Linked DNA regions of Homo sapiens: region 2 is linked to region 1. Evidence: fine-mapped expression QTL. A gene starts in region 1. The other region holds a variant in brackets. All regions are shown on one strand. Distances are between the middles of the regions. Region 1 holds the start of PCMTD2 (protein-L-isoaspartate (D-aspartate) O-methyltransferase domain containing 2). Region 2 has its middle 31 kb from the start of PCMTD2.

Evidence for each region. PIP is the estimated chance that this variant, and not a neighbour inherited with it, causes the effect. A credible set is the group of variants that fine-mapping cannot tell apart.
Region 2: its variant is the best candidate, but not a certain one, in a credible set for the expression of PCMTD2 in monocytes after LPS (Quach 2016, PIP 0.89).

What each region holds. Positions count from the first base shown.
Region 1 is chr20:64,253,504-64,258,881 of GRCh38, reverse strand. PCMTD2 (protein-L-isoaspartate (D-aspartate) O-methyltransferase domain containing 2) reads right to left here and starts at 3,134. Exons shown (of 6, transcript NM_018257.3): 1 at 3,012-3,134.
Region 2 is chr20:64,284,003-64,289,380 of GRCh38, reverse strand. No RefSeq gene overlaps it. Among named protein-coding and RNA genes, the nearest start is that of PCMTD2, 31 kb to the right of the region's middle. RefSeq lists a silencer at 3,034-3,226. The variant C/AC (reference allele first, on the strand shown) is at 2,555.

The DNA.
Region 1 (5,378 bases):
CCATGTAACTTTTTCAAAGTAACTGCTTTAACTTCATATAAAATGGTAATGCTTTACAAAACACCAGATACAAATTGTCAGGGAAAAAGACCACCAGACCTCATGAAGACATTTTCTGAAATGAACACAACCTTTTTAACAACTTGTTATAATTATGATGAAGTTTATACTTGCTTTCCTCCTCACATTCCTCTGGATTTCTAACAGTAGAATGAGGATCGTAAAGAAATACTGTGGGGTGACAAGGGGCCTGGGGCGGATTTCATACACACCCACGTACACAACTGGAGACAGCGGTGGGAGGTTTTCCCAGGAATGAAAATAATCACATAGTTTCTTACAAGTGAACAAAAAGTGTGAAGGGTATAGCTTAACACAAATTCTCTTCTATTTTTATGGTGGAACACTCAATCTTCACACTCAAGATTTTAGAGCTGAATATTAGGTTTTGCAAATCAATAGGATGGTCCAGTCATTAAATTTTCACACCCTTTTTGAATTTTTTGAATTGTTTCGGAGCCCTTGTTAGATTACGGTCCACAGCCAGCTGACTTAGACTTAGATGGAATTAAGTCCTAATGAGGTCAACTTTAATCCTGGATAAGCCACTCAGTTCTGAGGCTGCACCCTAGCCTACCACAGTCATCTTAAAATTTGGGTCAGTGGTTAAAAGCGGAATCATGTGTTTGGATGCTTAAGGGTCTATTTAGGAAAAGAGCTGGAAAATCGCATACCGTCCTCAGTCAAAGCCACCTCTTCACCCAGAAGCCTGTATATAATGTTCCAACATTGTCTCAATGCCACATCTCTAGAAGGTAACCTCAAACTGTATGTTGGATAGGTTTCATTTTCCACTAAGTAACTATCACTTATTTTGAACTCTGCCTTAATTTGAAAGTTCAGACAGCTTTTTAGTAAAAACAAGCACCTTTTTCCAGGTACCACCTGCCAGTCATGGCCTCATTTACACTTCACAACATTAAGAAGCAAATTGGAGCTGGCCGGTTAATTTGTTCATGATCACATAGCCAGTTTGTGAGGAGGGGGCTGCATTCAAACCCAGGACTGTATGGCAAAAGGCCTGTGTTTTTAATACCACACCAGTGCAGCTTTTAAAAATACTCAAGACAGCAACGTTCTTTACCACACAACACACCGGTAACCTTTTGACGATGGGGTAACCCTATCTATACCTATTGCCACTGGTAGGATCCATGTGAATAGCTGTGGGGTCTGATATTTATTACCATCTTTGTCTGGTAATCTAACACTCCCTCGCACTGAAAACCATCGATATGATCAGTCATGATGTCACCAAAAACACCGACAACAAAGCTCTTCGCCAAACCAAATCCTATCATTTTCACCCAGATTCTACAATCTGGTCAAATCCAATTTTTCAAAGTAAAAGTGTAGAATCATTTTTAGAACGCTGCACTCGATGATACTGTGCACATTGTCTGCTGTAATTAATCCTTAATATAATTCACTACTCTGTGGTAACTAGCAACAGTCCATAACAACCTGGCTGCTCCTTACAATGCGAACTGCCAGGGCACATGAAGAACACTTGCTGAGTGGCGACAGGCATGGGAAGGTCTCAGAACTGACACCTGAGTTGTGATTGTGGCTGTGTCAACACAAGCATGAAGCTATGGTAGTGGGGTTTTGGGAGGCGACATACGGAAGATCACATTCCAACTTGGATGTCACTTCTTTAGGGTAATATGGACAAAGTAATTCATTGTGGAAGATGAGTGGGGAAAAGGACCCAAAGCCACATCTCCTTTGGGCAGAATGATCAAACAAACACACAAACAGATTTCTCACCTTGAAAACCAGAACTCTTACAAGCAATGCAAAGGGACTTTTTTCAAATACAGATGGTCTCCGACTTCGGATGGTTCGACTTCAGGTTTAACGATGTGTTTACTGGGATGCGACCCCACCGTAAGCCGGGGAGCACCTATACTTGAAAGGCTGTCACATGTACACTATTAATGGGCCTAACAAAAGCCAGACCAGTGGTACATGTTGGAGACAATGCCTACTAAATACACAGAGAAGCTTTCTAACAAATGAAGTTGCAATGAATGAAAGGAGCTCTTGATAAGCCCAGCCAAGTTCCACTGGAGGTACGAGCTGGGGTGGCGCAGGGAGCAAGGCCCTGGATCGGTCACCTCTGAGGTCTCCTCTCATCACCTGAGTGTAGGGCTCTATTTCCCCCAAGCGTGGCCACAACAATTTCTGAGTTGCTTATAGGCACCTCAACTTCACTCATTCTTGAATGACAGTCTATCAAACGCCCAGATAGGAGCTGTTTAGCCATTCCCTTGAGAAGAAAAATGAAAACTATTCTAGTCACACGAGTAAAGAGGGGGTGGATAAAGAGGGCGTGGATATTTAGGTGACTTATTTGAGGTGCAACGCTGGAGCAAACATTCATTTAGGAGACACGTCCCTCTCACAAAAACAAAACAAAGGCCCGAAGCTCAGGCAAGTTCTCCTTCCTCCAACTAACAAAGATCTCTTTCCATGCGTGAATTGAAGTCCCAGTGCTCTGCTCCAATTCTTACTATCTCCAAGGCACGGGGCGGGGGGGCGCAATTATTTTTTTAAAAAATCCTGTCATCTTCTGAAAGGGTCCAAGGCAGACTTTGTTCTAAACCTTAGCTCTTGGCTTGCCTTGGAACTGCAAACGTTTCCCACTTGGGAAGTCAAAGACAAGCTGCAGGTCTGGACTAACCAGACCCAAGAGTGTGAGTGAGCAACGGGCACCGGGAGAGACCGACGGGAAACCGCGAGCGCTCGGAGAGAGAAACGCGGGACGCCCTGGAGGCCGCTGGGGGGAGGTGAGGGTGCCCGAGGTGGGGAGGAGCGACGCCCCCAGAGGAGAGCTCCGGGCGCAGGGGTGCCGGGGGTGGGGAAGGAGGAGGGAAGGGGCCGAGGGGACACACCACCCGCTCGCCGCAGGCCGGACCGAGGGGCGGCGGCGGCGGCGGCGGCTCTACCTCCAGGCTCGGCCGGCCGACGGGTTCGGACCGCCTGGGCTGCCACCTGCAGCTCCTCGGGCGCGTCCCTCGTGTGTCCGCGGCCGAGCAGCGCCGCTCCAACCTCGGCCGCCGTAAACATCCGCCGCCGCCGCCGCCGCCGCCGCCTCTGCGCCTGCGCACAACGGCCTGACTGCGCATGCGCCGCGGGCCTGGCACTTAAAGGGGTGATGGCGGCGCAGGGCGGGCCCCACTCCCCTGGGCTGCCTGCGTCCGCCCGCCCCGCTGAGAGCTCGCTGAGCCCTAGGCCGGGTCCGAGTCTCGCGGGCGCGCCGTCCGCGCAGTGCTCAGCCAGGACGGACCCCGCACGGGCTGCCTCAGAAGCCCTCCCTAAGGGTCACCTGAGACGCCTTTGCTGACCCACGGCTGGGGGCGTTCCGCATCTCCAGGGTGCCCTGCGGCTGCTGACTCGGGGCCGGCGCTGCCCTCGGGCGGCCTCCCAGCACCAAGCACAGCCGCCCTGGGACCCCCGCCCTGCCACGCGGACGGCCACCCGGCCCTGGGGCCCTCCTACCCAGCCGGCTTTGTGAAATCAGCTGTGAAAGGAAGATATCCTGGGCCCCCAAGATCACTAAGGAAAACTCCAGCAGGAAACTGCTTAGGGCAGGCCTGCTTCCCATTCCATTCAAAGTCACTCCTCTGCTCACTTAGATAGATACATATCTGATTTGCCTCCTTTGAAAAGGCAAATGAGAAACTCAAAAGAATTTAACCGTTGGTGTCTCACCTATCTGTGGCCTGGACGCTCCCTCCCCGCTTGGAGTCTTCCTGCCTTTGCTTCAAGTTGTCCCGTCTTTCCAGACCGAACCGATGTGCTTCTTACATGTATCGATGGATGTATCCTGTCTCCCTAAATGTATAAAACCAAGCTGTGCCCCGACCACCTTGGGCACATGTCAGGACTTCCTGAGGCTGTGTCACGGGCGCGTCCTCACCCTTGGCAAAATAAACTTTGTAAATTAACTGAGACCTGTCTCCCATTTTCTGGGTTCACACAGCCCATTGCCCAAACTTCGCGTGGGGCTTTGCAGATAGGCTGTAGCTGCAGAACCCTTTCTTCAAGCACAGCCATGCAAGCCGCCTCATATGTGCAAGTGCCAGCGTCGCTGGGGCGGACGAGTGGGCCTGGGTCTCCGGTTCCCGCCTCCCTCCTAACTCGGCATTCCTCCCCAGACCCTGGAGCTCCACTTAGGAGCAGAGTTTGAAAACCAAAGGCCGGTGCCTTCACCACGTTATGTGGTCCCAGGGAGACCTCACTTCTCTTGTTGATCCATGGTCCTGGATCCACGGACCTGAGGTGGCCCACCACCTCATGACCTTCATGGGGCTCTCAGTGTCCTTCCACCTGAGAGCTTGTGGTTATTTGTGACTGTTTCAAATTACAGAAGCCCTGGAGTCATCCTTGACTCTCTTCCTACTGCCAGGGGACACGTCCTCCATACATCCCTCCTTGCCCTGTCCCAGCTCCCCTCACCTCTCCCCACCCCTCCCACCATTCCCCTGGGCTCTGGCGAGTGGTCCTCCTAAAACAGGTGATCACATCACTGCTGTCTTCAGACACTCCCTTTGTTCCTGGACCCAACTGAGGGTCGGGCTACTACTTCTCCTGGCCCAATAACAAGATGCAAATGAGCTGGAGAGTAAGAGAGGTTTTATTTCTGTAACCGGTTACAAGGAGAAGGCCTGGAAATTATCACCATACCAACTCAAAATTACAAAGTTTTCCAAAGCTCGTATACCTTCTAAGCTGTATGTCTACATGTAAGTGTGCATTCATCTACAGACATAAGTGATTAACTTCTTTTAATCTATGACTAAGGTTGAGTCCTGAAGACCCTCTTCTGGAGCCTCAGTAAGTTTACTTAATCTAAATGGGTCTAGGTGCTGGGGTGATTACCCTTATCTTGTCTCCTGCTAAATCATAATGATATGGGGAATTCCTTTAGACCCCCATAAACTTGTTTGTGGAGGCCTGGGGAGTTTCTTCAGATCCCTAATACAACTTGTTTAATCCTAAAAAGGGTCCTGTTAAGAGTTCCTTCGTTATCTTGTCATGCTTCAAGGCCCAGGAAGAGCCTAGGCAAAACTCTTGGTGGGCTCTTTGTTACATTCCAACCTTTGTATAAGGGCATTGGCTCAATCAGCTTTTAATGTTTAACCTGGCTACTCAGTCCGTGCTGGGACAGCTGTAATGGAGGCCTGCGTTAGTGAGACCCGGCCTGCCACAACTTCAGACTCTTGCTTGGTTTTCCAAGGTGTCTCCACCATTCCCCTCCACATCAGCTTCCACTACCATCAGCATTCATAACCCTTCACAGGGTATATACT
Region 2 (5,378 bases), 30 kb before region 1:
CACCCTGCCTTTGCCCCCTTCCCCAGAACAGAACACGTTGATCATGGGCGATATTTTTCATTGTGCCAAAAAGTTGCCATGACCGTCATTAAACCTGTTTAACACCAAATAATAAGGAAAATAAAATAAAAAATTCGGGCATGGTGCAGAAACTCACTCCAAATAAATTACCTACCAAAATATATAATGGTGGAAATATTCCAAAATTCAATATTTTGGGATTTATACACAAAAGATAAACAAATTAGAGGCCAAGAGGCTGCCGGAAGGGAAAAACGGGGCCTGGAATGGCCGACGTGAGGAATGAGCTGGGCCTAAAGAGGCCACTGGCAGGCAGGAGCTGGACCTGCCGAAGTGGCCGAAAGGCAGGAGCTTTGGACTGGGGAGGCCACAGTGAGGCGAGAGCTAGCTGGGCGTGGAGAGTCCGCTGTGAGGCCAAGGCCGAGGCCAGGCCCGTGCAGGCCTTCGAGAGGCAGGAGGCCGGGCCTGCAAAGGCCGACTGGAGATCAAGTTCTGCGCCTGAAGAGGCTGCCAAAAGTCAAAAGCGGGGCCTGGGAAGGCCGCCGAGAGCCATGAGCTGGGCTGGGCCGAAAGAGGCCACTGGGAGGCAGGAGGAGCTGGGCCTGGAGAGGCTGCCAAAAGGCAGGAGCTTCGCCTGAGGATGCCACAGTGAGACACCATCTGGGTCTGGAGGGTCCACTGTGAGGCAGAGGCTGGCCTGTAGAGTCCGACAGTAGACAGAAGTTGGGCAAAAGGCTGATTTGAGGAAGTTTTGGGCTTCAACAGTCAGCCACGAGGCAGACACTAGGCCTGGAAATAGCCCGACAGTCATGAGTTGGGCCTAAATGGGCCACTATGAGGGAGGAGCTGTGCCTGTTGAGGCTCCTCCAAAAGGTCATCTGTACACACACAGTAAAAATCTGGGAGTAACTGAAGACAGAGTTGGTAAGTAAAATAAGAAACAGTTATAAGAAATTAAACTATGGTATCCATAGGCACTCAGTAAAAGGTCAGTTGATGTTAGCTGCTACTTTTTTGTTGTTTAGAGACAGGGTCTCACTCTGTCACCCAGGCTGGAGTGCAGAGGCCTGATCATGACTCACTGCAGTCTCAGCCTCCCTGGGCTCAAGTGATCCTCCCACCTCAGCCTCCCAAGTAGCTGGGACTACAGGAACATGCCACCACACTAGGCTAATTCATGTATTTTTCTGTAGGGATGGTGACTCCCTTTGTTTCCAAGGCCTATCGCAAACTCTTGGCCTCAAGCCATCCTCCTGCCTCAGCCTCCCAAAGTGTTGCGATTACCAGTGTGAGCCACCACACCTGGCCAGCTGCTACTTTTATCAATATTATTCTTATTCCACTCAATTAAAAATTATTATTTTCAAGGCTATGCAACAGTATGTATCCTACAGCGTAATTGTAAAAACATATACAGTCGTCGTCCCTCAGTATACAGAATTAGTTCCAGCCCTCCATCTCTGCATATACCAAAATCCATGCTTACTCACGTTTCGCTGTCACCCCTCTAGAATCCACGTATACGAAAATTCCAAATGTTAGTTGGGCATAGTGGCAAGCACCTGTAGTGTCAGCCACGTAGGAGATTGAGATGGGAGGATCGCTTCAGCCTGGAAGGTTGAGGCTGCAGTCAGCTGTGATAGCACTACCACACTCCAGCCTTGGACAAAAGAGGGAGACCCTGTCTCAGAAAAAAAACAAAATAAAACAGGTTAGAAATTGTAATCTAACCCTAAGCCTAACCCTAACCCTAACCACTAAGCCTAACCCCTAACCCCTACCCTAACCCTAACGCTAACCACTAACCCTAACCCCTAACTCCAAACCCTAACCCTAACCCCAAAACCTAACCCTAACCATAACCCCAAACCCAACCCCAACCCGAACCCCGAACCTGAACCCTAACCCTAACCCCAACCCTAACTCCTAACCCTAACCCCTAACCCTAACCCTAACCCTAACCAATAACCCTAACCCTAACCCTAACCCTAACCCCTAAACCCTAACCCTAACCCTAACCCTAACCCTAACCCTAACCCTAACCCTAACCCCTAATCCTAACCCTAACCCTAACCTAACCCTAACCCTAACCCTAACCCTAACCCCTAATCCTAACCCTTACCCTTACCCTAACCCTAACCCTAACCCCTAACCCCTAACCCTAACCCTAACCCTAACCCTACCCTAACCCTAACCCTAACCCTAACCCTAACCCTAACCCCTAATCCTAACCCTTACCCTTACCCTAACCCTAACCCTAACCCCTAACCCCTAACCCTAACCCTACCCTAACCCTAACCCTAACCCTAACCGTAACCCTAACCCTAACCCTAACCCCTAACCCTCACCCTCACCCTCACCCTGACCCCGACCCCTGACCCCGACCCTTGACCCCTGACCCCTGACCCCGACCCCGACCCCGACCCTAACCCCTGACCCTGACCCTAACCCTAACCCTAACCCCTGACCCTGACCCTGACCCTGACCCTGACCCTTAACCCTGACCCTGACCCTGACCCTGACCCTGACCCTA[C/AC]CCTAACCCTAACCCTAACCCTAACCCTAACCCTAAACCCTAACCCCTAACCCTAACCCTAACCCAACCCTAACCCTAACCCTAACCCCAACCCCAACCCCTAACCCCTAACCCTAACCCTAACCCTGATTATTCAGGGCTGCAAACAGAAAGGATTTTGTTCACTGTCGATGCGGCCCCGAGTTGTCCCAAAGCGAGGCTGTGCCCCCAAGGTGTGTGCTGAGAAAGCTGCTCCACCTTTGCGGTGTGCCCCGGGTCTGTGTTAAGCAGAACGCAGCTCTGCCCCCGCAAAGGCACCCCACGCCGGCGCGGGCACAGAGAGGCCCACCGCGCCGGCGCAGGCGCGCACAGGCTGGCGCGACGTGCGGGGGAGGCGCGGCGGATGCGCAGAGAGCACGCTGCCGGGCGGGGGTTGGGTTGGGGTGGCGTGGTGCAGGAGCACAGTCGCACGCCCCTGTGCTGGGGAGGGGAGCGCGGTGCAGGCGCGGAGACGCCCGTCGCAGCGGCGTGGCGCAGAGACGGGAGGAACCTCAATAATTCGAAAAGCCGGGCTCGACCGCCCCCTGCTTGCAGCTGGGCACTACAGGACTGGCTTGGTCACGGTGCTGTGCCAGTGCACCCCCTGCTGGCGACTAGGGCAGCTGCAGGGCTCTGTTGCTTATAGTGGTGGCCAGCGCCCCCTGCTGGCGCCGGGGCAATGCAGGGGCCTCTTGCTCACAGTATAGCGGCGGCACGCCGCCTGGTGGCAGCTAGGGACATTGCAGGGTCCTCTTGCTCACAGTGTGGTGGCAGCACACCCCCCTGCTGGCAGCTGGGGACACTGCCAGGCCCTCTTGCTCAAAGTGTAGTGGCGGCTGGCTCCCCTGCTGGCAGCTGGGGACACTGCCGGGCCCTCTTGCTTGCAGTGCAGTGGGGGCACGCCCTCTTCTGGCACCTGCTGGCACTACAGGAACCTCTCGCTCACAGTGTAGTGGCAGCACGCCCCCTGTTGGCAACCAGGGCACTGCGGGGTCCTCTTGCTCATGGTGTGGTGCCCATATGACACCTGCTGGCAGCTAAGGACACTGCAGGGCCCTGTTGCTCACAGTGTAGTCGTCGTACGCCGCCTGCTGGCAGCTGGAGACACTGCCTGGCCCTCTTGGTGGCAGTGTCGAGGCAGCACGCCACCTGCAGGCAGATGGGGACTAGGCGGGGGTCTCTTGCTCCCAGTGTGACGGTTGGCGTCCCCTACTGGCTGCCTCCTGCACCACTTAAAGTCAGAGCATCAGTTTTTAAGCCCCATCAGTTCTGTAAATTCAACTGAAACGGAGCTAGTACTAGGGAGAGCTGATGTCCCAGTTCTTGTCTAACTTGGAAGAAAGATTTTCACCAAGAGGCAGTACAAAAATGGCAGACAACTTCATTGAAAAGAAATACAGTGTAAAGAGCTCATTGTAGAAAAATAGGGAGGAGTGGGCTGATCGTGCATGAAAACATCCTAGGAGTCCTGTGCAGGGAATTTTATTTTGGACTTCTTCACATTCCTGTCTCTGTCTCAAGTCTCCACCTGTTCTCTTTGTCTGGTTTTCCTGCTACTGCCTTAGGTCCCCGACTTGCCACACTTAGGCTTGTGGGACCTCCTCACTGTTGGTTGAGGTACATGTGTGGTATCAATCCGAATCCACTCTGGCACCAGCCTCCTTCCCGCCATCCCAGGCAGGCTGACAGCGGTCACGTTTGTACCTAGTGTGCCTGCCTATCTCTTTTGAATGTCCTTCTTTGCCCTAATCTGCACTTATGGTGCCAGGTTTCTCTTAAGAATGTCCCCTTTGTCCTTCTTATCAGCATGTAGCTAGCAATATTCTGACATTTTTATTGCAGAGTGAATGATGATTGGGGCATCTTAAGAGGAGTTCTAGGGTGTTTCTTTCTGCATAGGTACCTCTTCTCCCTCCTACTCACAATTGACAAGTGCCCATGCACTCCAGCACTAGAGATGCTACTAATATGTGAATTTTTGGTGGTCCCTCCAGGTGAGCCTTCCCAGACTTTCCCTTTTCTAGGAGCTCCCCTCCTGTTCATGTCTAGCTATATATAAACTCTAACAGAGCCCACTATCCTGTGTCTTTCCAAAAATAGTGAGGGAATGATTAATTGGAAACCATAAGAAGTGATATGCATGTAGATGAAAACTTTACAACTTGCACAAATAACCACTCAAAATCATCCTTACACTAAAAATGCAAAACTATACAATTTCTAGAAGAAACTATAGAAGAAAAGCTATGTGCCTTTGGATTTGGTAATGAATTTTAACAAATGACACAAAAGGTTGATATACACAGAAGAAATGACAATGTGGATTTCTTAATCTTTAAAGTTTATACTCTGGAAGAGACCTTCTTAAGAGAACAAAAAGACAAGCCACATATTGAAGAAAATATTTGCAAAATACAGATCTGAGAAAGAATTTGTATTCAAAATATATAAAAAATTCTTAAAACTAAACAAGTTAAACAGCACAATTAAAAATGCACACAGATCTGAACAGACACCTCACCAAAGAAGATCTACAGATGGCAAGTAAACATACAAAAAGATGCTCAACATACTACAGAACTGAAAACCAGGAGATAGCACAGCTGGTCTATATCTATTAGAACTGCTAAACTCTAAAAAAATCACAAATTGCTGCAAGAAAGACAATAACTCTTTTCATTGCTGGTGGAAGACAGTGTATAAGACCAGAATATGCCACCCCAAAATATGTCCCTTTGGCATAAGAATTATTCCAAGATGATTATTTTGAAAAAAAATGCTAACAAAGGAAGTTCCAAAACCAGAG